Linked DNA regions of Homo sapiens. The protein of the gene in region 3 purifies or fractionates together with the protein of the main gene of each other region. This does not show direct contact. Each region holds a gene or a part of one and is shown on either strand. Other genes may lie near its edges. The genes, in order: SLX4IP, PRMT3, PDCD2L and COA7.

Region 1 (7,032 bases), on a different chromosome or scaffold from region 3:
AGAAGAGATTCCAAAAGCATGAAATGGGTTAATGTTGGCAAGGTAGGTAGGCTTTTACATTTTATAATTACTTCCTTATGATGCTTCCATGGGAACACAAAAGGCTAGATAGGCAGATAATCTATGAATTATATAAAACCAGAGTGGTGGTTAGTATAAGGAAAAAAGTCCCGAATTTTTTGGTAGCCAAGAATCACAAACTACAGTTTTCAAAATACCAATATTAAAAGATTTGACTGTTGCTATGGTCTTGGGTGTGATAAAATATTCTTTTTTTTTTTGAGACAGAGTCTCGCTCTGTTGCCCAGGCTGGAGTGCAGTGGTGCCATCTCGGCTCACTGCAAGCTCCGCCTCCCGGGTTCACGCCATTCTCCTGCCTCAACCTCCCAAGTAGCTGGGACTACAGGCATCTGCCACCACGTCCCGCTAGTTTTTTTTGTATTTTTAGTAGAGACGGGGTTTCACCGTGTTAGCCAGGATGGTCTCGATCTCCTGACCTCGTGATCTGGCTGCCTCGGCCTCCCAAAGTGCTGGGATTACAGGCGTGAGCCACTGCACCCGGCCACAAAATATTCTTTGTTTTTGCAGATAGAGAAAATATGGGGAATTCTTAGGATGATAAGGGTGTAGACCACTGTGTCACCAGGTCTTGCTAGAAGAACAGAGCTCACAGGCACGTTGCCCCACACAGTAGGATTCTGGGGCTTTTGTCACAGCCTGAGCCTCACAGATACCAGATATTGGCCAAGAGTTCCCAGATGGTTTGGAATCAACATTATTTGCCTTACAGTTTTGTATGTTTATGACGCATGTTAATGTATGAAATGTGGACTGGGAGTCCAAAAGAAGTTACAATTAACCATAAAGTCCTAGGTAAAAAAGGTTAAAATAGCTTACCACTGAGCAGTTTCATTCAGTCTTTACAAAAATAAATGTGTTCATTGGGGCATTCAGAGTGTAACTGTTTTCTCTCATGTTCAGCTAATAGATTTCTGGTTGAACCTTTGTTATCTTTTGGAGTAGACAGAAAGAGTTCTCCATGGAGTGTCTGATTACTTTGCTGAGTGTGCAGAGAGTTCACTTCCTCCCAGTGCAAAGCTCCGGAGAAATGCTCTGAAAGAAATGTAGGTGCAATGTGTTTCCTTTTTCTCATTTTTGCCTGTCTCTATGTATGGATAGATAACATGAAGTCCAGAATTAAACAGAGTGCCTGGAACTGAAGCACAAACTCCCCTCCGTCACGTACTTACTCTCCCCTCCCTCCTGACTCTCTTGCTTTCTGGACAATAGGGATAGAATCCTTGCTTCACAGGTGTGTTGCAAGGAGTAATTAATGACACGTTCTTTGAAGATGAAAAGCACCTGTTGGTGGTGTGTTTCATACCACTTTCGGAGGGACTACAGACAGATCTAGAAAAAAAAAAATTCCTTTCCTAGGATCCTTGTTCCGACTTTAATATAATTACGATAATCCTCATGCTCCTGGTGTCAACAGTAAGAACATGAATATTACATGTATTTGTTTTCACACTGAAGCTAGCCGAAATAAATATTTCAGCTTTCAATGTTTTGGTGGTTGAGGAAATTTCTTGCCATTCACAAACCTGTAAATATATGCTGAAGTTAACATCTTTAGTCTCTAATTCTCCCTGTGCAGCTTCTATCCTGCCCCTCAAAGTTCACTTTATCATCAGAGTGAAGTTACATTGTCTGTTGTGCACGCTGTAAGGAGCAAGGGGCTTATATACAGCTATATCGACACTCTTTTGTCTTCCACGATTGTATTTTATTGCCTTTCATGCTGACTATCTGAAATTTCTTCCAGGACATTTCAAATTATATTAACTAAGTCCTACTCCCATTTGTTGATCAAGTTTGGTCAACAAACCTGATACCAGCTAAATGGTGGTTATATTTGGGTAACATCTTGAAATAGCCTGAGAGAAATTCCAGAAGATTTTTCTTTACTCACAAGTAGAAATTGTGTGTATGTGTACATTTGTGTACACAGAGCCTGAGTCTACTCCTGGAAAAAAAAAATCAGTATATAGGCAGTACTGACCCTTAACATTGGAAATGAATACCTATTTACCTTAGTTAAAATGTGAACGCCATCATAAATCCATTTTTAACCCAATGATTGATAAGCAGTATCATGTATAATGGAATATGTGAAGGTTTTTGCTTGATTCAGTCTGCATTTAAACATACACCTGTGGTGGGGAGTGTTTCCAGATTTGCTGGGGAAGCGAGAGGGCAGGTAGTGCCTGCCTCCTTTTTCAGGTGTAGGAAATGTGGTAGAGGGAATCTGGAGGAAACAGTGCAGTGACAGCTTTACAAACCATAAAATCATTTTTGTTTGTTTCAGTGTGAAAAGAACTGAAACAAAAAGCAGTGTCACGAGCAAATCGCAGACCAGAAGAGACACTGTGGAAACATCTAGTGACTCAGTGATTGCAGAGATAGCAAGGAGGAGGAATGATGGTCAGGCTTCCTCCAGTCCCCCATCAGAATCCATGGGACAAGCAAAGGATTCCATAAAGGCAGCTGAGAGCCACTGGGGGCTTCCTGTTCAAAAGCTGGAAAAAGTTAATCAGACCCAGCCAGAAGACACTAGTGGCCAGCAAAAACCTCATCCTGGGGAGCGGTTAAAGACAGGGCTTCTAAGCAGGAGCCCCGTCTGTAGCTGTGAGTCAGCATCACCATGTCCAAAACAAAGTCCACGAGTGGCCAAAACCCAACAGAAACGCAGGAACTGCAGCTCTGCGGAAGACTTCGACCACCACGGGAGAGTTTCTCTTGGAAGTGATCGATTAGTCCCGAGAGAAATAATAGTGGAAAAAAGCAAAGCTGTCAGGGTTTTGCCAGCTTCAGAGTTGTCAGATCCAGGGTTACTTTTGAAACAAGATTTGGCAAAAACCACGTCTAAGGAAGAGTTGCATGTTTTGGAAAGTCTCTCCTCCAGACATCTTATGAAAAATAACCCAGGGCAGGCACAGCAAACCGGCTTAGCCACAAACACTGAAAGATTATCTACAATTCAGAACAGCCCAACCAAGAAAAGAAAGAAATACGAAAGAGGCCATTAACACCGAAGAGGTTTGTACCGTTGGAGTTGAGGACATAGTGGCCAAACCTGTGACAAGAGAGCTGCGAATATAGATGCCGGGATTTTAAAGGAATTAATTAGAATGACTAATTTAAATAGGAAGTGTGTTATCTGTGTTATGGCTATGGTTTGTTTTCAAAGCATTTCAAACCGGGAGGCTATATGCTTGTTCTAACAGCGTTGCTTCTTTATCATTGTATTTTATGACTGTCTTCAGAGAATTAGTAATGACAAAGAGCCATCCACCTTGTCAGGGAGGAGACTGTGCAAGGACTGCATGAAGAAACTGATCATGAGCCCCTTCTTGGCACATCACTGTGCAGACCACACAATGGACCGTGCAAAGACAGTGCTGCCGTGCTGCCTTTCAGCTCCAGGGGTACAATCCATCCCCCTGCTCCTCAGCCTGAGTAGGAGGGCAGTGAAAGAACAAGCTAGTGGTTCTTAGCGCGTGGTCCTGGGACCAGCTTCGTTGTCTGGAAATGTGCTAGAAATGTGGTTATTGGGCCCTGCCCCATGCTGAGTAACTGCCTTTGGGTGATTCTGAAACATGCTCGCGTTTGAGAACCACTGGACTAATAGAACACTCCCCAGTGCTTCCTGCAGCCTGGTTGCCATGGCCTCCAGCTCACCAGTTGGGGCCAGATGTGCACATGCATCCCCTCGGACTCCCTCAAACTCGTAAAACACTTGGGTTTGGTGTATGGGTCACTCTCTTCCGGGTTCTACAGTATGGCAGCCATGGCACCCATGAAGGTGTTACTTTCCCTTATAATTGTTGAAGTCGATGGGCGATTCTGCCCAACCTTAGGAGAAGACATCAGAGAGGCTCGTTGTTGCCTGTAGCTCAAGCATGTCCCAGTCCCTGCTCTTGCACCCACCTCCAGGATTTTGGTTTGGGACAGACTATAACCTAACAGGAACTCAGTGACCAGGTTCCAGTTTCCCAGTTGGAAGGCTTCGCAGGCAGTTCAAATTTCAAGATGGGAGCCTTCCCTTTACAATGTCACCCACTGTCTCCAGTGGGCTTGATGAAATGTCACATAGTGAATTGTAGCAATGACTTATTTTGGATGGACACCCGCTAAAAGTTTCCAATAACCGAATTTCACTCTAAAAGAGGAAAGAAACAATATTCAAGGTCCATTCATTCAATACATCTTTTTTTTTTTTCTGTTCAACATGGGGTGGTCCTTTGAAATGGCACCTCCCCTAAGTAATAAGGAAAACCAAGTATATTCCCTAAAGTGTTGAAGTTAGCAGAAAAATCACCCAGAAAAGCCCAAAACAATGACAAGAGTACAGAAACAGGCATAGTGTAGGTTCATGCTTGAGATGGATTAGTGGTTTATTCCATCCCGTTCTATCCTTTCCCGTATCTCCTGTCCCCACTTGTTAAGACCAGTAAGACTCATGAAGCAGCAGCTATATTTCATGGCACCATTTTGGGTCATGAAATTCCATCTTGGTCACCAAGCCTGACTGTGGTGGTAGATACTGTTACTTTAATGTTCCAAACCCTGCCTAGAAACCTGTTCCTGTCCCATGATCCCAGCCTCACCACCCCCACTTGAAACAGCCCTTCCTACTGGTATCCTGTCCTCTTCCCTCTTGGCTTTTTTCCTGCTCCCAGCGGAACCCAGTCAGGGGATTCTATAGGAGAAGAGGGAGCCCAACAGAATACTAACTTCAGTGGAGCTGACTCTGCTTATACAATAGGGGTGGGCTGCACAGAGTGGAAACCGAGTACCTGGTAGAATGTGCATTTCCATGGCCCACTGTAGGCGCCTCTCTTAGAGCAAACAGTATTTTAGGTGTGCTCTTTATTGAACACAGGACCACAGTGTGTCACTGAATCTTCTTAAACAGAAGCAATTAGAACGATTTAGATATAGGGAGGGCACAAGTAATAAGTAACCCAGGGGATAGACCAAGAAGCAGCTCTCTGGAAGAGTCTGGAATTAAAAAGACGGCTGTACTAGAACAGTAGCCACTGCCTGCTCCAGAACTAGGGGGGAGATATTTGAGCTGGAGCCACCAGAGAACATTTCTATTGAGAAGTTTTTATTTGTTTGTTCTGTTGGTTTTTTGTTATTTCTGTTTTCTTCTAATCTTTCTCTGAAGTATCACTCTGGTATTGAGAAATTTTTATTTCATTAGCTAACCTGGGCTTGGTGGTTAAGGCTAGTACTTGTACTTAGAATGATTCTCTGTCAGGAAAAGTCTTGGCTTTAGAGTTTGTTATAGTTGGGGATATAACAATTACTGTGATCGAAGAGAAAAAATAGCACCTTTGGTTGTAGATAGATGTAGTTTTCCTCACAGCCCTCACGTCCCTTCATGTAAAAGGGATTTTAACAGGATTTACAGAGGGAATGGCTCTCAGTTCCCACACTGTGACATGTGTTTGAGGAATTTTGCCTTTAAGCATTTTTCTTGCACATGGCTGAAACACCCCTGGCTCTCTTGTTATTTGAGTGGTTGCATGATTCTTTGGATATTTGGAAGTACAAAGGGGTAAATGGATGCCAGGGGTTTTTTGTTGTTGTTGCTTATTAGGTAGGATATGAAGAGTTCTCACTGTTGGGAATGGTATGTGTTTTGACATTCTTTTTTTTTTTTTTTTTTTTTTTGAGACAGAGTCTCGCTCTGTCGCCCAGGCTGGAGTGCAGTGGGGCGATCTTGGCTCACTGCAAGCTCCGCCTCCTGGGTTCACGTCATTCTCCTGTCTCAGCCTCCTGAGTAGCTGGGACTACAGACGCTCGCCACCACGCCCGGCTAATTTTTTGTATTTTTTTTTTTTTTTTTTTTTTTTTAGCAGAAACGGGTTTTCACCGTGTTGGCCAGGGTGGTCTCGATCTCCTGACTCGTGATCCGCCCGCCTCGGCCTCCCAAAGTGCTGGGATTACAGGTGAGAGCCACCGCACCCGGCCTGTTTTGACATTCTTAATGATCTTAATAATTTGGCATCTGAAAGTCTGAAACAGTGTCAGTATTGTTAGTCAAAAAGAACAAGTTCTTCAACCACTTGCGTAGTACCCCAAATTATATTCAAGTCCCTGTGACTCCAATGCTTGGAGAAGTCATTGATATGATTTGATTAATGTTATAACTTTGAATTTCCTAACTTTCTCAGCGGCATAGATTCTAAGCCACTTCCATGTGCTTTCAGATGGCATCTTAATAGATTGGTGTTGAGGTTATTTTAATGTCCATAAACAAGAAAGGTCTGGGAACAATCTGTATGATTTTTCTTTCACATTTTCTTATCTTTGCCACTGGAGGTTAACTGTCGTCCAGATATGCATATGAATTGTGAAATGCAAAGAAGCAAACATTTGGGGGTAGGGGAGTAAGTGCTGTAGTTCTTTTGTTCACTTATTTTAATACTATAGAAGTGTATTTCATTTTATAAAAAGCAAGAATCATAAAAACCCTCTGTATTTTGATTTATGAAGAATATAGCTTCTCTCTGAAGTATCTCAAGATATATCTTGGGGACCACAATGGGATCACAGTGTAATTGTTTGCTGTTGGTGTCATGTTTGGATTTTAGCATGGTTTGTTATGCATGTCAGTGGCCTCTGATTTCAGAAAGAGCTTGGCGAGGGCAGAACACATAAGGGAAGGAAACCTCTGCTCAAGAGAGTGGCCTGGGATCACAGTGTCGTCATTCCCAATTTCCTTGAATTCCTTCTTGGCAGACCTTACTGTAATATTACACAAAACTGTAATGAGTGGCCCTCCTTTGGAGGTAACAGATGCCTTTCCTAAGAACTCAAAGTTCTCTTTTCAGCGTGCTGTGACTTGAATATGGAAATCATTTTAATTTCTTCTTTTCTCTTATGGGGAAATTTCCATGCTTGGTTTGTCAAGACAAGAGAATTCATTCCTTATTATTGAAACATTAATGAACTGAAACA
Region 2 (7,032 bases), on a different chromosome or scaffold from region 3:
TGGCCTTGAACTCCTGACCTTAAACAATCCTCCTGCCTTGGCCTCCCAAAGTGTTGTGATTATAAGCATGAACCACCATGCCTGGCCCTGTTTTTTACTTTTAATTAATTAACTTTTCTAGAGACAGAGTCTTTCTCTGTTACCCAGGCTGGAGTGCAGTGGCACGATCTTGACTTACTGTAGTTTCCAACTCCTGGACTCAAGCAATCTGCTCACCACAGCTTCCCAAGTAGTTAGGACTACAGGCATGCACCACTATGCCTGGCTAATTTTTTTAAAAGAATTTTTTGTACAGACCTGTGTTGCCTAGGCTGCTCTCAAACTCCTGGGCTTAAGTGATCTTCCTGCCTTGGCCTCCCAAATGCTGGGATTATAGGTATGAGCTACCATACCCTGTTGAAATATTTTATAATGTTGTTTGATATATTTTATTGAAAACTTTTATAATATCAATATTTTTAAAATATTTTATAAGTTGATACATTTTATTAAAATTTTATTCTACATTTCAAATTGAATCAGTAATTGTAAATGACAACTTTATAGACTGCTTAGTAACAGTTACATGTTTAACCTTTGCACATAAATCTGGTTTGAAAAAGATAATACGTTAGTAAATAAGTACATATTTATCCCAATCTTTAAAAACTTTCATGAAACCTAGGATAAATGTATTGAAATTAGATTTCCTGGGCAGTACTAGAAATCTATAAGGCTAAGGAATAGTCACAAAGAGGGAAGAAACTACAAAATGAGAACCCTAAGTATGCTAGATAATCAACTAGGCTGTCTGCATATATGATTTGTATATGAAGGCTGAAGCTCTTTTCCATATTTTAGTTTTTTTATACAAATCTTTATTACATCCTGATTTTCTAGCAAATACAATTAAAAACTCCTCCTCAGAGGAGTCCATAATAAAATGTGTAGTACCTGTGTTACTAGTTTAATAAAATATCCAAATAACTAACCAATTTGTTTAAAATTTATAGTAAGAAACTTATTAAAAACAAAAGACTATCTCTCTTCCAAATATAGGCCAATGTAAATGATTTTCAATATAGATAAACTCAATGTGGGAGTTACATTTGGTTAAATCTGGTGGAGCAAACGTCTAAGAAAATGATTACGTGGCAGACCATGAGGATCAGCTGATTCTCTTCCTCAGCTGAACTATGTCAGATTCCCACAATGAGAACTTCTCTCTTATTGAGGAGGCTCATTAGGAAAGGGTCCATCATCCATCCATCTGCTCACATAAAACCAGCTCCCTCCTGCTGACCCACTCTACCCCCACATTAAAAACTACAAGGTAGTGTGCTTTTATGGCTGTTTCACTGGAGACCATAAGTTTGAGTTGAATTATTCAACGTGAGGGTCACGGTGAGAGAACGTGGATCTTTCTTATTCTTGTGAACTGTGACCTTTCCTTTCAAGGCTTCACCTGTAAAACAAAGGCAAAAATTGTTAAGAATTCAAGGAATACAGTGTAGCAGAAAAGTAAACAATGTATAACTAGCACTTCTTTTTATTGTGATGTTTTCCCACTTTTTAAACTTTATTTAAGGTTAATATTCTTTTTTTTTTTTTTTTTTTTTAAGATGGAGTCTCACTCTGTCACCCAGGCTGGAGTGCGGTGGTGTGATCTCAGCTCACTGCATTCTCCCAGGCTGGAGTGCACTGGTGCAAGCTTGGCTCACTGCAACCTCCGCCTCCTGGGTTCAAGAGATTTTCCTGCCTCAGCTTCCCGAATAGCTGGGACTACAGGCGCATGCCACCATGCCCAGCTAATTTTTTATTTTTAGTAGAGATGGGGTTTCACCATGTTGGCCAGGCTGGTCTCGAACTCCTGACCTCAGGTGATCCACCCGCCTCAGCCTCCCAAAGTGCTGGGAATACAGGAATGAGCCATTGTGCCCAGCCAATATTCATTTTTTAGAGCAGCATTATGTTTCATTAATTTTTTTTTTAAGACAGTCTCTCTCTGTTGCCCAGGCTAGAGTGCAGTGGTACAATCCCAGTTGACTGCAACCTCTGCCTCCCGTGTTCAAGTGATTTCTCCTGCCTCAGCCTCCCAAGTAGCTGGGATTACAGGCATGCGCCACCATGACCTGCTAATTTTGTATTTTTAGTAGAGACAAGGTTTTGCCATTTTGGCCAGGCTGGTCTAGAACTCCTGACCTCAGGTGATGCGCTCACCTACCTCAGCCTCCCAAAGTGCTGGGATTACAGGCGTAAGCCACTGCGCCCAGCCCTGTTTCATTAATTTTTGAATGAAGCGAGAACTAACTACATACCACAGTGTCAAATCCTTGTGAAAGTGAGTAAAACTATTGTGGTCATAAAGGGTCAATGGAAGCATTTTACTGAACTTCTAAATATGAGGCCCTATGGTGGGTTCTGGGCATCTAGAAAAAAGATATGGTCCCTGCCCTCAAAGAGTTTGTGATCAGGGTGAAGAAAAAAGCTATACTAACAATTACACAATAGGCATGTGTCTAAAGTGTGCTGGAGGTGAGCACTGGGGATGGTTGGAAGGCAGTTAAAGGCAAGGTTTCACAAGAATTAATGAATTACCCAATGCCAGGGCTGAAGTCATGGAGAACCAGGCTTAAGGGATGTACATGTAATGGTATTTAAGGAAAACACATACACAGAACCTTCAGGAATGGCATTTTGAGGAACTGAAAATTATAGCTGGGAAAATGTAGAGGCACATGACAAAGCCATTGGCCATTGATGCACTGGTGCTGTAAAAGGGAAACAATGTACCCATGTGAAACAGTGAACACACAAAAATTACTTACCTGTGCAAAGGCTGATTTCCTAAATTCTGTAGGTTCCAAATTTTTATCTATGTACTTTTCTAATTATAAATACTTCTCATTTAATTTTTCATTTATTTTAAAGAGCTGTTTAAAAAGTAACAAATTGCTAAGTTGTAGTTGATCACCATTCTTTGCTTAAATAATATTAAGATAACACCAAACAGTGTCAGGAATAGCTTTAGCATCTGCATGGACACAATGAGGCTCCATATAATGACCAAGGAAATCTACATAAAACTATTGAAGTACTGAATGAATATCGTATTTAAAAAAATACAAATTCCCCATATTCAAGGAAAATTATCTGAATGCTTTTCAAGATGGTAGTGAAATAACACAAGTAAAACATAACCACCTGTTATATTTATTTTCAGAATATAAAGATTCCATTACTGATACCTTCTCTACATCTTTGCAAAAAAGGTGAGACTCACAGTTTAACACATAATTAAGGAGTTAAATAATAGAAGAAATAATGTGGCCCAAGGTGCAATCCATTCAACAAAATATAACAATTTTTGTGTACGTATATATGTTAATGTGTATATTTGGCTTTAGCTTTTATATCTGACCTATTCCTCTATATTAAGAAAATGATATAAAACTATCTCATATGACATGTTCACCAATAGTGGACATAATAAAGATTACCAGTCAGATAGTTCTACAAACTTTATGGAGTTCAGGTTAATCATTAGATAATTTATGCTTATATTTATTCAACACTTACTTTGTGCTAGGCTCTACTCTAAGGTCTTTACATGATTTATCTCACTTAATGGTCACAAAATATTGCTATGAGGTAAGCGCATTTTCCTTACTCACAGATGAAGTTCAGAAAAGGTAAGTAATTTGCCCAAGGTCATCTGCCAGCTAGTGAAAGAACTAGGATTTTCAGCAAGGCAGTTTGATTCCAGAACCCAAGTTCCTCAACTATACTCTGGTGCTTCCCTATCTCTATCTAAAAAAATGATGATTATAGCTTTAAATATACTATAATGAATAAGAAATAGACCTAAATTTTACCGCCCCGTGGGTTTTGTTTTTTTTTTTTGGTAAAAATATTTACTTGTTTATAAACACAATTGATATGTAAGTTGATGTAACTATTATTCTATAATAACTAATGAACAATGATACACGTTTTCTTATCTAAGGCATTAACCTAAGGAAGAAATAAAAGATCATTAGTATATTGAACACATTTAAGATTTTCCTATTTTGACTTTTCTATTTTGGCTATTTTATTTGCTTCTTTTTAAATCAACATTTAAAAACTTCTATTTAAGTTATTTATTGACACCAAAACTGGGAACGAACAGCCACATTATGATAAACTGACAATGTTTTTGTAAATACATGACAGAGAATAGTAATTGCCAACTTGGTTATTGGGTTTAACTTACTGTTATTGAATTGCCAACACTGAATCAACAAACTTGATTTTTACAACACAGTGGCTTGTTAGTTCCTTTTTACTTACAAGCAGTATGTCTTATACAAATTACTTAATTTAGTTGCTGGTATAAAGTAGTTCACATATGAAAAGACAGATAATGGACACTTGAGATTCAAAAATAACAAAATGACCTCCAGAGACCCAACATAAAGTAAGTATTCTATTAGATGTCCTAGTCAGGACATTAAAGTGTGGAGGGAAAAAGGATACAGACTGGGGGAGGGGGAATTAAAGTTTTCATTTGCATACTACCTGGTTTTATACATAGAAAATCCTGAAGCTATATGCAAAGAAGGCTACTAGAACTATTTATTGAAGTTTAAGCAAGGTCTTATGATTTAGGATCAAGGTATAAAAATTCTATTTCTACGTACTAGCAATGAAGAATTTATATAATACTACAAACAACAGCTTCAAAAAAGCATAAAGGCTGGGTGTGGTGGCTCATGCCTGTAATACCAGCACCTTGGGAGGCCAAGGTGGGCGGATCACTTGAGACAAGGAATTCGAGACCAGCCTGGCCAACCTGGCAAAACTCTGTCTCTACTAAAAACACAAAAATTAGCCAGGCATGTGGTGCACACCTGTAGTCTCAGTTACTTGGGAGGCTGAGGCACAAGGATGGCCTGAACCCAGGAGGTGGCAGTTGCAGTAAGCAGAGATCATGCCACTGCACTCCAGCCTGGGCGACAGACCGAGTCTCAGTCGCTCTCGCTCTCTCTCTCTCTCTCTCTCTCTCTCTCTCTCTCTCTCACACACACACACACACACATACAATACTTGAGATAAATGTAACAATATATGTCTGACTTACATAAACTACAAAACAACTTTAAAGATGGTCCACATAAATGGAGAGACCCACTCTCTCGTGAGTGAAAGACTCAATGTTGTTAAGATGTCAATTTTCCCTAATCTATTGATTTAACAAAATCCCAGTCAAAATCCTAACAGGCTTTCTTAGGCCAGAAATTAATGAGCTGATTTTAAAATTTATATGGCAATATAAAGGACCTAGAATAGCCAAAACAACTGTTTGTGTAAATCTTGCCATTTTGTTCTTTTTCAATCTTATAAAGACTGTCTTAAAGGCACAAGGACAGACATACAGATCCCTGGGGGAAAATGAGAGCTCAGAAGTAGATCTATATGCATATGGTCAATTAATTTTTGACAAGGGAGCCAAGGCGATTAAATCGGAAAAGGATAGTCTTTTTAAGAAATGATGATGGAGCAAGTGAATATACATTTGGGAAAAGATGAACTATTATTAACTTTTAAATTTAACTCAATTAGATGACCACCCAATTTGAAATCAAGCAAAATATCTGAGCAGAAATCTCACAAGAAGATATAAAAATGGCCAATACACATATGAAACAATGCCCAACATCACATCAGGCAAATGAAAACTACAAGCACAGCTATAACTACATACTCAAAACGGCTTAAAATACTGCATCTTTTTTATAAGTGTTAAAAATGATGTGGAACAACTGAATTCACAATGGTGTTAGCCCTAGGGATGTTAGATAGCATAGTCATTTTTAAAAAATTTGCCAGTTTCTTATAAAGTTAAATATACACTTACCATAAGACCCAGTAATTCCACTTCTAGGTACTTACCCAAGAGAAATGAAAACATCTGTCTGCACCAAGACTTTTACATGAATATTCATAGCAACTTTATTCTTAATGGCCCCTAACTGAAAGCAATACAAAAGTCTAGCAGCAGGTGAATACCTAAGTAAACTGTGGCATAGCCAAAGGAATATTACTTGGCAATAAAAAGGAACAACCTAATGATAGAAGAATCTCAAAAAAAAAAAATGCCAAGAAAGCTAGAGTACATGCTGTATAATTCCATTGATAAAAATTCTAAAAAGGTAATACTAACATATAATGACAAAGCATATCAGTGACTGTCTTGGTCTGGGAATCACGGTTGGGGACTGACCATACAGGGAATTGCAGAAGAAACTTTTTGGAGTGATGGAAATAATCTATATTTCCACAGTGGTATATGTAATTTTCAAAACTCAATGAGCTGTACAATCAAAATGTGTGAATTTTGATTATATGTAAATTATTTGTTTAAAAATGTGGTGCCTAGGAATAAACACAGACAAATGAGAGAAATAAGATCAATTATGAAGACTCAGTACATAGTAAGTGGAGCATTTTAAGTCACTGAGGAAAGGATTCAATACATTGTACAAAAGTAGTAATATAATCTTTTAAAGGATGAAACCAAAGCCAGACACCAAAAGCAAAAGGTTGACAGATGTGACTATAAAAAATGAAAAAAAATTCTATAAAGCAAGATAGTTTAAAGAAAGAAAAGCAAATTAAAGCAGTGTCTTTGTGTAACAAGTATTTTTTAAGTCTGAATTTTGAATTGATTCTTTAGGATGGATTATCAGAAGTATAATTCCTTCATAAAAGGTATGAAATATATTCCAGTGTTACATTCCTGCCATCTTCATCAACAAAAGAGTAAATGAAAAACAACAACCAAAACGTGATTGCTCTGATTTGTATTTCAAATCAGAGGAGATAAGTACTATTTATTTAACTACCATCTAAAAAATCTGGTGCATTTACCTTACTTCTTTTCTCATTGAAGCATATGAGGTATTGCTAGTAAATATTTCATTTTTGTACATTTGTTCTGATGGTTGCTGCTCTTTCATTTACATTGCCTTTTGAGTGTTAAAAATATGTAAGCTGTCTTGTTTATAGAAG
Region 3 (7,971 bases):
CTGTCCTCACAGACCTGCACGTCTCAGCCTCTGGGGCAGGGTGTGCTTCCCTTCAAGGGGTTTAGGGATCAGGACTCTCTTGGAGACATTCCTTGGTGTTTTCTGCAGGTCTTTGAAGGAAATCGCCCAACCAACTCTATTGTGTTCACCAAGCTCACACCATTCATGCTTGGAGCCTTGGTCGGTGAGTGAGTAGGGGAAAGGTCCTGGCTTGGGGTAGGTTGGAATGGGCTTGTGGAGCCCTGATGTGCCCTGTCTGTCACTTCTGCAGCCATGTATGAGCACAAGATCTTCGTTCAGGGCATCATCTGGGACATCAACAGCTTTGACCAGTGGGGGTGAGTTGCTCACTTAGGGGAGGGCCGGGAATACCTTTGTGTCGGCTCAGGGATTTCAGTAGCAACGTTAGAGCCTTCCTCATACCACTCTTCCCTTCCCTTCCCTTCTTGGCAGAGTGGAGCTGGGAAAGCAGCTGGCTAAGAAAATAGAGCCTGAGCTTGATGGCAGTGCTCAAGTGACCTCTCACGACGCTTCTACCAATGGGCTCATCAACTTCATCAAGCAGCAGCGCGAGGCCAGAGTCCAATAAACTCGTGCTCATCTGCAGCCTCCTCTGTGACTCCCCTTTCTCTTCTCGTCCCTCCTCCCCGGAGCCGGCACTGCATGTTCCTGGACACCACCCAGAGCACCCTCTGGTTGTGGGCTTGGACCACGAGCCCTTAGCAGGGAAGGCTGGTCTCCCCCAGCCTAACCCCCAGCCCCTCCATGTCTATGCTCCCTCTGTGTTAGAATTGGCTGAAGTGTTTTTGTGCAGCTGACTTTTCTGACCCATGTTCACGTTGTTCACATCCCATGTAGAAAAATAAAGATGCCACGGAGGAGGTTGTAGGCTCAGCCTCTGATTTTTTTTTTCCTGTGATGGTGCTTTATGTAGCAGAGGGCAGGAGCGCTCAGCAGGACGCAGGCTGTGCCTCTGCGGACACTTAACACTAAGTGGTGAGCGGGTCTAGAGTGGAGCAAGGTGCCCTGAGAAGACAATAGTGGGGTGGGGGCACAATCAGTCAGGACGGCAACTTGGCCTGTGTCACCAAATCCCAAGACTGTTTTCCACTCCTCACCTCTGTGACTGCAGAAATTGGATACTCTGTTCACTCGATGGTTCTAAAAACTGCATTGAGATTATGTTTGTTTCGGGTGAATTCCTGGACAAGACCGAGGATGACTGCCATCTCCTGGCAAGACGCTCAGGTAGTTCTTTTGCTTTAAAAGGCAGATATTGAAAACTGGAATTTTTTTTTTTTGAGTCTCGCTCTGTCACCCAGACTGGAGTGCAGTGGTGCAATCTCGGCTCACTGCAACCTCCGCCTCCCGGGTTCAAGCTATTCTCCTGCCTCAGCCTCCCGAGTAGCTGGGATTACACGGCGCACACCACCATACCCAGCTAATTTTTGTATTTTTAGTAGTGAAGGGGTTTTACCATGTTGGGCAGGCTGGTCTTGAACTCCTGACCTCAGGTGATCTGCCCGCCTCAGCCTCCCACAGTGCTGGGATTACAGGTATGAGCCACCACGCCCGGCCCATTTTTTTTTTTTTTTTGACAACTTTTTTTTTTTTTTGAGACAGGGTCTTGTTCCATTGCCCAGACTGGAGTGCAGTGGCATGATCACAGCTCACTGCAGCCAGTAATCCTCTTGCCTCAGCCTCCCAAGTAGTTGAGACTACAGGTTGTACCACTATGCCCTGCTAGTTTTTTCATTTTTTGTAGAGAGACGGGTCTTTTTTTTTTTTGAGACGGAGTCTCGCTCTGTCGCCCAAGCTGGAGTGCAGTAGCACGGTCTCAGCTCATTGCAAGCTCCGCCTCCCAGGTTCACGCCATTCTCCTGCCTCAGACTCCTGTGTAGCTGGGAGTACAGGCACCTGCCACCATGCCCGGCTAATTTTTTATATATTTTTTTAGCAGAGACAGTGTCTCACTGTGTTAGTCAGGATGGTCTCGATCTCCTGACCTCGTGATCCGCCCGCCTCAGCCTCCCAAAGTGCTGGGATTACAGGCGTGAGCCACCGCGCCCAGCAAGGCGGGTCTTGCTGTGTTTCCCAGACTAGACTGGTCTTGAATTCCAGGGCTCAAGAGATCTCCCACCTCAGCCTCCCACAGTGCTGGGATTACAGGCGTGAGCCGCCACACCCAGCCTATTCAAAATTTTTTTTTCTTAGAGACAGGGTCTTTGTTGCCCAGGCTGGACTGCAGTGATACAATCATAGCTGACTGAAGCCTCAAATTCCCAGGCTAAGGTGATCTTCTCACCTCAGCCTTCCAAGTAGCTGGGTCCGCAGATGCATGCCAGTACACCCAGCTCATTTAAAAAAAAATTTTTTTCTTTTTTGAGAGTCTTGCTTTGTTGCCCAGGCTGGAGTGCAGTGGTGTGATCTCGGCTCACTGCAAGCTCCACCTCCCGGCTTCACGCCATTCTCCTGCCTCAGCCTCCCGAGTAGCTGGGACTACAGGTGCCCGCCACCACACCCGGCTAATTTTTTGTATTTTTAGTAGAGACGGGGTTTCACCGTGTTAGCCAGGATGGTCTTGATCTCCTGACCTCATGATCCGCCTGCTTTGGCCTCCCAAAGTGCTGGGATTACAGGCGTGAGTCACCGCGCCCGGCTCATTTTAAAATTTTTGTAGATCAGTGTACTGTTGTAAAAAAAAAAAAATAAGAAAAATAAAAAATAAATTTTTGTAGTGATAGGATCCCACTGAGGCCAGAGAATAGGGTCTGGAGACAAAGGAGCATTCACTTCAGCCTCTGACTGGTGGCAGGCCAAGTCTTTATTTACATAGGGTGTAACCAAATAGGAAACCTCTAAAGGGTACTTAAACCCCAGATTTTCTACACAGGGCACTTGCTTGAGCCTCATCCCGCTTTCTGGAATGTACTTTTGCTTCAATAAATCTGTGCTTTTGTTCCTTCTTTTGTTGCTTTGTGTGTTTTGTCCACCTCTTTGTTCAATATTCCAAGAACCTGGACGACTTGTAGTCAAGATCCTCCCCTGGTAATACTACTGTGTTGCCCAGGCTTATCTTCAACTCCTGGGCTTAAGAGATCCTCCTGCCTTGGCCTCCGAAAGTGTTGGGATTACAGGCGCAAGCCACTGTGCCCAGCATCACAGGGCCTTTTAAAGCTATCAGGATGAAGTGTGGTAAAAAAAGGAGTAAATGGGTTTCATCTCCAGATCCTTGCTGGGCTAGAGCCAAACCTCACAAAGGCTGGTGCTTCCTCCTTTGAGGTGTAAATCCTTGAAAACATTCATTTCTTTTGCATACCACGTTATGAATCCTAAAATAATGTTTTTGCAGCCTGCATTTTTAAAAAGTCAGGTTTATTGGGGTGTGATTTACATATAGTAAGATTCACCTTTCTTTGGTATACAGTTATGAGTTTTCACAAGTGTATATACAGTCTTAGAACCATTACAGATGAGATATACAGCATTTTCCTCACCCTCAAAAGTTCCTGACACTTGTGGTCCAGTCCTACTCCCTCATCCCAACTCCTGACTACCATTGAACTGATTTTTTTCCCTCCGAAGTTCTGCGTTTACCAGAATGGCGCCTTTTGTGTCTGGCTTCTTCCCATGATGCTTTTGAAATTCACCCATGTTGTGCTGCAGGAATTGAAAAAACTGTATTGTGTGGCTGGGCGCGGTGGCTCACACCTGTAATACTAACACTTTGGGAGGCCGAGGTGGGCAGATCACTTGATTTCAGGAGCTCGAAACCAGCCTGGCCAACATGGTGAAACCCCGTCTCTACTAAAAATACAAAAAAGGCCGGGCATGGTGGCTCACGCCTGTAATCCCAGCACTTTGGGAGGCCAAGGTGGGCGGATCACCTGAGGTTGGGAGTTCGAGACCAGCCTGACCAACATGGAGAAACCCCATCTCTATTAAAAATACAAAATTAGCCAGGCATGGTGGCACATGCCTGTAATCTCAGCTACTCGGGAGGCTAAGGCAGAAGAATCGCTTGAACCTGGGAGGCAGAGGTTGCAGTGAGCTGGGATCACGCCAGTGCACTCCAGCCTGGGCGACAAGAGCGAAACTCCGTCTAAAAAAAAAAAAAAAAAAAAAGCCGGGCGCCGGGCGTGGTGGTGGGCGTCTGTAACCCCAGCTACTGGGTGGGGCTGAGGCAGGAGAATCACTTGAACCTGGGAGGCTGAGATGCAGTGAGATGGCGCCACTGCACTTCAGCCTGGGCGACCCAGCAAGACTCTGTCTCAAAAACAAAACAAAACAAAACAAAAATAAAAACTGAAAAATCTCAAACATATAAAACCCAAATAGAATAAATCTCCATGTGCCTGGCACCAAATTTCAACAATTATCAACTCATGGTCAATCTTACTGTATTTACACCCCACCACCTTAATTATGTAGTAGCAAATCGGAGGTATTTCATCTATAAGCATTTTGGTGTGTTTCTCTAAAAATTAAAAACTTTAACTTTTTAAAAAACTTTATTGTTCTTGTTAATGACTGATAATACCATTATCCCACCTAAAATTTTTATTTTCCGGGAAGGCTTTTTTCTGGTGGCTCACACCTGTAATCGCAACACTTTGGGAGGCGGAGGCGGGAGGATCGCTTGAACCCCAGGAGTTCAAGACCAGTGTGGGCAATATAGCAAGTCCTCGTCTCAGGAAAAAAAGGAAAAAAGAAAGTTAGCTTTTTGGCAAAACTACTTCCTAGTAGATGGTGTGTACTTCCTATCACAGCGCATTAAGGGGCACATAATGCCTGGGACTCCGGGATTTCGAGCCCCTGACGCCAGCGGCGCCTCTGTGGCTCTGGGACCTGAGCGCACGCGCCTTAAAGCCACGCCTCCGCATCGGATCCTAGTAAGGGAGCGGGGTTATCATTTTAGCGTAGCGTTGCGCGTGCGCAGAGAGGCCGCCGTAGTTTGCGTTTTCACCTGGTCGCCCGGCGGCCATGGCGGCCGTTCTGAAGCCGGTGCTGCTGGGCCTTCGAGATGCGCCGGTGCACGGCAGCCCCACAGGGCCGGGTGCCTGGACTGCTAGCAAGCTGGGCGGCATTCCGGTGAGGGCGGGTGCCGGAGCTGGGGTCGATGGGTGCTGCTGAAGGGTGCGGAGGGAGTGGGCGAGGTCCTGGGGGGAGTCGGGGTCTGAGCGCCTCCTCTGTCCCCTCAGGATGCTCTGCCCACCGTGGCTGCGCCCAGGCCCGTGTGTCAGCGCTGCGGGCAGCCGCTCGCTCTGGTCGTGCAGGTGTATTGCCCGCTGGAAGGCTCCCCGTTTCACCGTCTGCTGCACGTGTTCGCGTGCGCCTGCCCCGGCTGTAGCACCGGCGGTGCGCGCAGGTAGGCGGGGAAGTCCCAGAGCTGCTCCAGGGGTGTCCTTTCCAGCGGGCTGGGGCGGGCCGGCGGGCTGGAGTCGGGGTGCAGCCCTCACGGCCCTTTGTCTTCACCCCGAAGCTGGAAGGTGTTCCGCTCCCAGTGCCTGCAGGTGCCAGAGAGAGAGGCGCAGGACGCTCAGGTAAAGGTTGTGATTGGCATGTTATTGTTTTTCTGTCATTTGAGGATATTTTCCAGAGAATAGTTTGGGGCAGACTTTAAAGCCGTGTTCTTTGAAGTACACTGGAGTGTTTTTTGCTTTTCTGAAGAACCATAAAATGCTATTTTCGTAAAGTTTTTTTTTTTTTTTTTTTTTGAGACGGAGTTTCGCTCTGTCGCCCAGGCTGGAGTGCAATGGCGCGATCTCGGCTCACCGCAACCTCCGCCTCCCAGGTTCAAGCGATTCTCCTGCCTCAGCCTCCCTAGTAGCTGGGATTACAGGCATATGCCACCACGCCCGGCTAATTTTGTATTTTTAATAGAGACGGGGTTTCGCCATGGTGGTCAGGCTGGTCTCGAACTGCCGACCTCAGGTGATCCACCCGCCTCGGCCTCCCAAAGTGCTGGGATTACAGGCATGAGCCACCGCGCCCGGCCTTTCTTAAGGTTTTGTGAGAGTTTTTTTTTTCTTCTATTTTACTTTATTTTTATTTTCTAACTCCTTTGTTAAAAGGAGATGGAGGCCCAGCATGGTGGCTCACGCCTGTGATCCCACCGTTTTTTGAGAGGCTGAAGTGGGAGGATTGCTTGAGCTCAGAAGTTGGAGACCAGGCTGGGCGCGGTGGCTTACGCCTGTAATCCCAGCACTTTGGGAGGCCGAGGCGGGCGGATCTCCTGAGGTCAGAAGTTCGAGACCAGCCTGGCCAACATGGCGAAACCCCGTCTCTATTAAAAACAAAAACAAAAAATTAGCCGGGCATGGTGGCAGACACCTGTAATCCCAGCTACAAGGGAGGTTGAGGCAGGAGAATCGCTTGAACCCGGGAGACAGAGATTGCAGTGAGCTGAGATCATGCCACTGCACTCCAGCGTGGGTGACAGACTCCGTAAAAACAAAACAAAACAAAACAAAAGAAAAAAAAAACGTTGGGAGAGCAGTCTGGGCAACATAGCAAAACATCGTCTCTATAAAAAGTAAACAAATTAGCCAGGCATGATGGCCACGCAACTGTAGTGCCAGCTACTCAGGAGGCTGAGGTAGGAGGATTGCTTGAGTCTAGGAGGTTGAGGCTGCAGTGACCTACACTTGTGCCACTGCACTCCGGCCTGGGCCACAAAGCCAGACCCTGTCCCCTGCCAAAAAAACAAAAGGGAGATGGAGACTTCCTCCTGGATTTCTTCAACTTTTTTTTTTAACTGTAAATTGACAGTTTATAATAATGTATAAATTTATGAGGTATAAAGTGATGGCTATGATTCATGAATATCATGTGGAATAATTAAATGAAGCTAGTTAATGCATTCATCACCTCAAATACTTAACATCTTGTGAGAACATTTGAAATTTCCTCTAGCAATTTGGAGATACACAATACTCTTATTTTTTTTTTTTTTTGAGACGGAGTCTTGCTCTGTTGCCCAGGCTGGAGTGCAGTGGCGCCGTCTCTGCTCACTGCAAGCTCCACCTCCTGGGTTCACACCATTCTGCCTCAGCCTCCAGAGTAGCTGGGACCACAGGCGCCCGCCACCACGGCCAGCTAATTTTTTCATTTTTTTAAATTTTTAGTAGAGACAGGGTTTCACCATGTTAGCCAGGATGGTATTGATCTCGTGACCTTGTCATCCACCCACCTCGGCCTCCCAAAGTGCTGGGATTACAGGCTTGAGCCCCTGTGCCCAGCCACAATACTCTATTATTAACTATATTCATGCTGTGCAGTAGAACTTAAAAAAAACCCACATTCCTCCTGAATAACTGAGGTTTTGTATTCTTTGACCGTCATCTCCTTATTCTTCCCGCTCCAGGTTTCTTTCTTCCTTTTTTTTTTTTTTTTTTTTTTTGAGACCGAGTTTCGCTCTTGTTGCCCATGCTGGAGTGCAATGGCACAATCTCAGCTCACTGCAACCTCCACCTCCCGGATGCAAGCGCTTATCCTGCCTGCCTCAGCCTCCCTAGTAGCTGGGATTACAGGCACTCGCCACCACGCCCAGCTAATTTTTATATTTTTAGTAGAGAAAGGGTTTCACCATGTTGGCCAGGCTGGTCTTGAACTCCTGACCTCAGGCAACCCACCCGCCTCGGCCTCCCAAAGTGCTGGGATTACAGGCGTGAGCCACCATGCCCGGCTCACTCCAGATTTTTTTTTTTCTTTGAGATGGAGTTTCGCTTTGTTGCCAGGCCGGAGTGCAGTAGCACAATCTTGGCTCACTGCAGCCTCCGCCTCCCAGGTTCGAGCAATTCTCCTGCCTCAGCCTCCTGAGTACCTGGGACTACAGGCACACACCACCATGCCCAGCTAATTTTTGTATTTTTAGTAGAGATGGGGTTTCACCGTGTAGCCAGGATGGTGTCGATCTCTTTACCTCGTGATCCACCCGCCTTGGCTTCCTGAGGTGCTGGGATTACAGGC
Region 4 (4,431 bases), on a different chromosome or scaffold from region 3:
GATACTTGTCCCCCAAATCTCACGTTGAAATTTAATCCCCAATGTTGGAGGTGGAGCTTGGTGGGAGGTGATTGGATCATGGGGAGGATTTCTCATGAATGGTTTAGGACCCTCCCCTTGGTGCTGTCCTCAGGAGATTTGTGTGTGGTATCTCCCCTTGCTCACTCTCTTGCTCCTGCTCTTGCCTTCTCACCATGTGATACACTGACTCCCCCTGTGCCTTCCACCATGACTGTAAGCTTCTGAGGCCTCACCAGAAGCCAATAGGATGCACAGCACCATGCTTCCTGAGCCAATTAAACTTTTCTTTATAAATTACCCAGTCTCAGGTATTTCTTTATAGCAATGCAAGAATGGCCTAACACAGATATGTACCCAGAAGTGGAATGGCTGGATCAAACGGCAATTCTGTTTTTCATTTTGGGGGAGCTGCACCAGTTCACAGGGTTCTAATTTCTCTGTATCCTTGACAACACTTACTTTGTTTTGGTGTTTAATAGTAGCCATCCTAATGGGATATGAGGCAATATCATTGTGGTTTTAATAGACTTTATATTTTAGAGCAATTTTAGGTTTACAGCAAAATTGAGAGGGTACAGAGATTTCCCATATAGTTGTTGTCCCCACACATGCATAGTCTCCACCATTTTCAACATCTCCCACCAAAGAGGTACATTTGCAGTAATTGATGAACCTACACTGACACATCATTATCACTCAAAGTCCACAGTTTACATTAGGGTTCACTCTTGGTGTTGTACATTTTAGGGGGTTGGACATATGTACAATGACAGGTATTTATAATTATAGTATCATACAGAGTAGTTTCGCTGCCCTAAAAATCTTCTGTGCTCCAATTATTCCTCCCTCCCCTCCCCCACCCACTGCTTTTTACTGTCTCCATAGTTTTGCCTTTTCCAGAATACATCCCAGTGTCATATAGTTGGCATCATTTAATATGAAGCCTTTTCAGACTGGCTTCATTTAGTAGCATTCATTTAAGTTCCTCTGTGACTTCTTATAGCTTGATAACTCATAATTTGTCATAGCTTGATTTAAGCACTGAATAATGACTACATGCACCACAATTTATTTACCCATTTACCTACTGAAAGACATTTTGGGTTGAGTTTTGGCAATTATAGATAAAGCTGCTATAAACATCCATGTGCTGGTTTTTGTGTGGACATGTTTTCAGTTCCTTCAGGTAAATACTAAAGAGCAAGATTGCTGGATCACATGGTAAGAGCTTACCTAGTTTTTGTAAGAAACTGCTTAACTGTCTTCCAAAGTGGCTGTGCCATCTTGCGTTCCCACCAGCAAGGAATAAGAGTTCTGGTTGCTCCAACTTTCCCAGCATTTCATGCTGTCGGTGCTTTGGATTTTGGCCATTCTAATAGTTGTATAGTGGTCTGTTGTTCTAACTTGCATTTTCCTGATGACATGTTATATGGAACATCTTTTCATATGCTTATTTGCCACCTGTCTATCTTCTTTGCTGAGATATGTTAAGGGTTTTGGCCTGTTTTTAATCAGGTTGTTTTCTTACTGTTGAATTTTAAGAGTTCATTGTGGTTTTTGATTTACATTTCCCTAATTAGTGATGTTGAACATATTTTCATGTTTTTTGACCTACAGTTTTGTGTGTGTGTGTGTGTGTGTTTTTTTGAGACAGAGTCTCACTCTGTTACCTGGCTGGAGTGCAATGGCATGGTCTTGGCTCACTGCAACCTCCACCTCCTGGGTTCAAGCGATTCTCCTGCCTCAGCCTCCTGAATAGCTGGGACAACAGGTGCCCACCACCACACCCAGATAATTTTTGTATTTTTAGTAGATACGAGGTTTCACTATGTTGGCCAGGCTGTTCTCGAAATCCTGACCTCGTGATCCGCCTGCCTCGGCCTCCCAAAGTGCTGGGATTGCAAGCGTGAGCCACTGCACCTGGCCTAGTTTTGTTTTTGTTTTTGAGACAGAGTCTTGCTGTGTTGCCCAGGCTGGAGTGCAGTGGCACAGTCTCAGTTTACTGCAACCTCTGCCTCCCAGGTTCAAGTGATTCTCCTGCCTCAGCCTCCGAAGTAGCTGGGATTACAGGTATGCATCACCACGCCCAGCTAATTTTTATATTTTTAGTAGAGAAAGGGGTTTCGTCATGTTGGCCAGGCTGATCTCGAACTCCTGACCTCAAGTGATCCACCTGCCTTGGCCTCCCAAAATGCTAGGATTACAGGCATGAGCCACCACGCCTGGCCTGACCTAGTTTAAGCACACCAAAAGCTACTTTACATTTTTAAAAAGTGAATTTGATGTCTTTTGAAATCTCCTCTGTGCACTTGGGGAAGTCCCTGTCCTCTATCAACTTGAGAGGCTGGCTGCTGTGCTCACAAGCCTTCATTTACACAGCAAGCCTTCCTTTCAGGACGGCTGCAAAACGGAAGCCTAAAACAGTAGATGGTGACAGAATGGTATTGTTACCAGCAGGGAAATGGCAAGCTCGCCCCCTGGTGACAAGCTGGGGAGACAACAGAAAAAGCAAATTTTTTTTTTTTTTTGAGACGGAGTCTCACTCTATCGCCCAGGCTGGAGGGCAGTGGCGCAATCTCAGCTCACTGCAAGCTCCGCCTCCCGGGTTCAAGCAATTCTCCTGCCTCAGCCTCCCCAGTAGCTGGGACTACAGGCGCCTGCCACCACGCCCGGCTAATTTTTTGTATTTTTTAGTAGAGATGGGGTTTCCCCGTGTTAGCCAGGATGGTCATGATCTCCTGATCTCGTGATCCACCCGCCTTGGCCACCCAAAGTGCTGGGGTTACAGGCGTGAGCCACCGTGCCCGGCCACAAATGTTCTTAAAAGGCACAACCACCACAAAGAACATACTCTCTACGGTACCTGGAATCTGGAAAGAACACTAATTAACACAAACCGTAGGTCACTCAAAATTGTTCATTCACAGGGACAGTTAAAAAGGCTCAGTTCCAGGGGACAAATGTGTCACAAAGTCCTTGCTTACAAACTCCTAGCTGAAGCTGCCTTGGGAAGAATCTGCTCCCTCAGCATGATGGGCAGTGCCAGGCGACTACACTGGAGGTGCTAATTTTTAACTGCCAATGTCTCTTCTAGACGATGGCAGGCTGATGTTTCATCTTCTTCAGCAACCCTGAAGCATAACAGCCTTTAAGCTGTATGTTGCACGTCCCTCTTGATCTCTGTGAATTTACTGAAAGATGTGACTCTAAAGGCAAAACGAAGCCCACACCAATGATTATGTAAGTCAGAGGGTGGTAGTTGTGACTATTTAACTGTTCTTAGTTCTTTAAGACCTCAATTACGTAAACCAAGATACGTTCTGATTTTCAAGCCATCCTAACCAAAATAATAATGATGAAAATGATGACAGCTGATTCCTTTAGGCCCCGGGGCTGCTAATTTTTCAAACTTCCTGCTATCCTCCCTTCCCTACTACCAATCTCCAGGGCTCTCTAGTTTGCTCCTATTTTTCACAGAGTTGCCAGAGTTTGAAAACTAAGACCCCCATAAACATGGCTATCTTCACAGAACATCCAGATGAAGGAATATTGACTGTAATAAACATTGTACAGAACACCCAGATAAAGGAATATTGACTGAAATAAACATTGTAGGCTATACTCCAGTAGCTGGGGCAATGGATCCATGTAAATGGAGCTACAAATTCAAGTCCCAAGTTTTTTTGCTCCAGCAGGTTGACCTTCAAGGGCTGCATCAGTCTTCAGAAACAGGAGCTGCCAGCCTCAAGCAGTTTGTTGCCTGGGAGGGAGGGTGGACCACATTACCCAAATGTTAAGGGTTGGACACCTTTCTGCTGTTCTTTGTGTAGCTGCTGGGCTCGATTTTTTAGCACCTCGGCCTTGGCCTCATCCTTATCAACACCATCCCCCAGCTTGTACATGCGACTGGCATTGGCACAGGCCCAGATATGACCCAGGTCACAGGCTTTCATGGAGTATTTACATGCCAGGTCCATGTCCTTGGGAAAGCCTGGGGCACCCTGCAGGAACATGGCACTGAGGTTGAAGCAACTGGAAGTATAGCCACCATCACAGGCCCTTGTGTAGTAGTCCCTGGCCTTTCCCAAGTCAGGCTGGCCATCCTCATTAACCTGTCCATCATGTGCCAGGAGGCCAACGTTGTGACATGCTGCTATTGACTTCTTTCCAGGCTTCTCACACGCCATCAAAAAGCACCTGGCGGCAGCTTTCAGGTCCTGGGTCAGACCACCTGAGAGGAAGGAAAGTAGGAAAAAATAAACCCAAGCCAGGGCACAACCTAAATGTCTCAGGCCAAAGTCAGTGAATTTTTTTTTTTTTTTTGGAGAAAGGGTCTTGCTTTGTTAACCAGGCTGGAGTGCACTGGCATGATCACGGCTCACTGCAGCCTCAACCTCCGGCTAAAGCAAT

What was found.
Region 1: the proteins of PDCD2L (region 3) and SLX4IP purify together in Homo sapiens (affinity purification with mass spectrometry; 3 studies listed by BioGRID and IntAct, with this or other methods). This does not show direct contact.
Region 2: the proteins of PDCD2L (region 3) and PRMT3 purify together in Homo sapiens (affinity purification with mass spectrometry; 4 studies listed by BioGRID and IntAct, with this or other methods). This does not show direct contact.
Region 4: the proteins of PDCD2L (region 3) and COA7 purify together in Homo sapiens (co-immunoprecipitation; 2 studies listed by BioGRID and IntAct, with this or other methods). This does not show direct contact.

The regions. Positions count from the first base shown.
Region 1 is NC_000020.11:10,620,291-10,627,322, forward strand, and holds part of SLX4IP (protein SLX4IP), read left to right. Parts: intron 1-1,023; coding exon 1,024-1,124; intron 1,125-2,368; coding exon 2,369-3,089; 3' UTR 3,090-7,032.
Region 2 is NC_000011.10:20,502,716-20,509,747, reverse strand, and holds the end of PRMT3 (protein arginine N-methyltransferase 3), read right to left. Parts: intron 1,445-7,032; coding exon 1,335-1,444; 3' UTR 410-1,334; downstream 1-409. UniProt on the Homo sapiens protein: Protein-arginine N-methyltransferase that catalyzes both the monomethylation and asymmetric dimethylation of the guanidino nitrogens of arginine residues in target proteins, and therefore falls into the group of type I methyltransferases.
Region 3 is NC_000019.10:34,399,448-34,407,418, forward strand, and holds the start of PDCD2L (programmed cell death protein 2-like), read left to right. Parts: upstream 1-4,951; 5' UTR 4,952-4,983; coding exon 4,984-5,091; intron 5,092-5,201; coding exon 5,202-5,368; intron 5,369-5,482; coding exon 5,483-5,543; intron 5,544-7,971. Other genes in the region: GPI (glucose-6-phosphate isomerase), read left to right, coding at 109-184, 272-338, 454-589. UniProt on the Homo sapiens protein: Over-expression suppresses AP1, CREB, NFAT, and NF-kB transcriptional activation, and delays cell cycle progression at S phase.
Region 4 is NC_000001.11:52,683,917-52,688,347, forward strand, and holds the end of COA7 (cytochrome c oxidase assembly factor 7), read right to left. Parts: intron 4,253-4,431; coding exon 3,804-4,252; 3' UTR 533-3,803; downstream 1-532. UniProt on the Homo sapiens protein: Required for assembly of mitochondrial respiratory chain complex I and complex IV.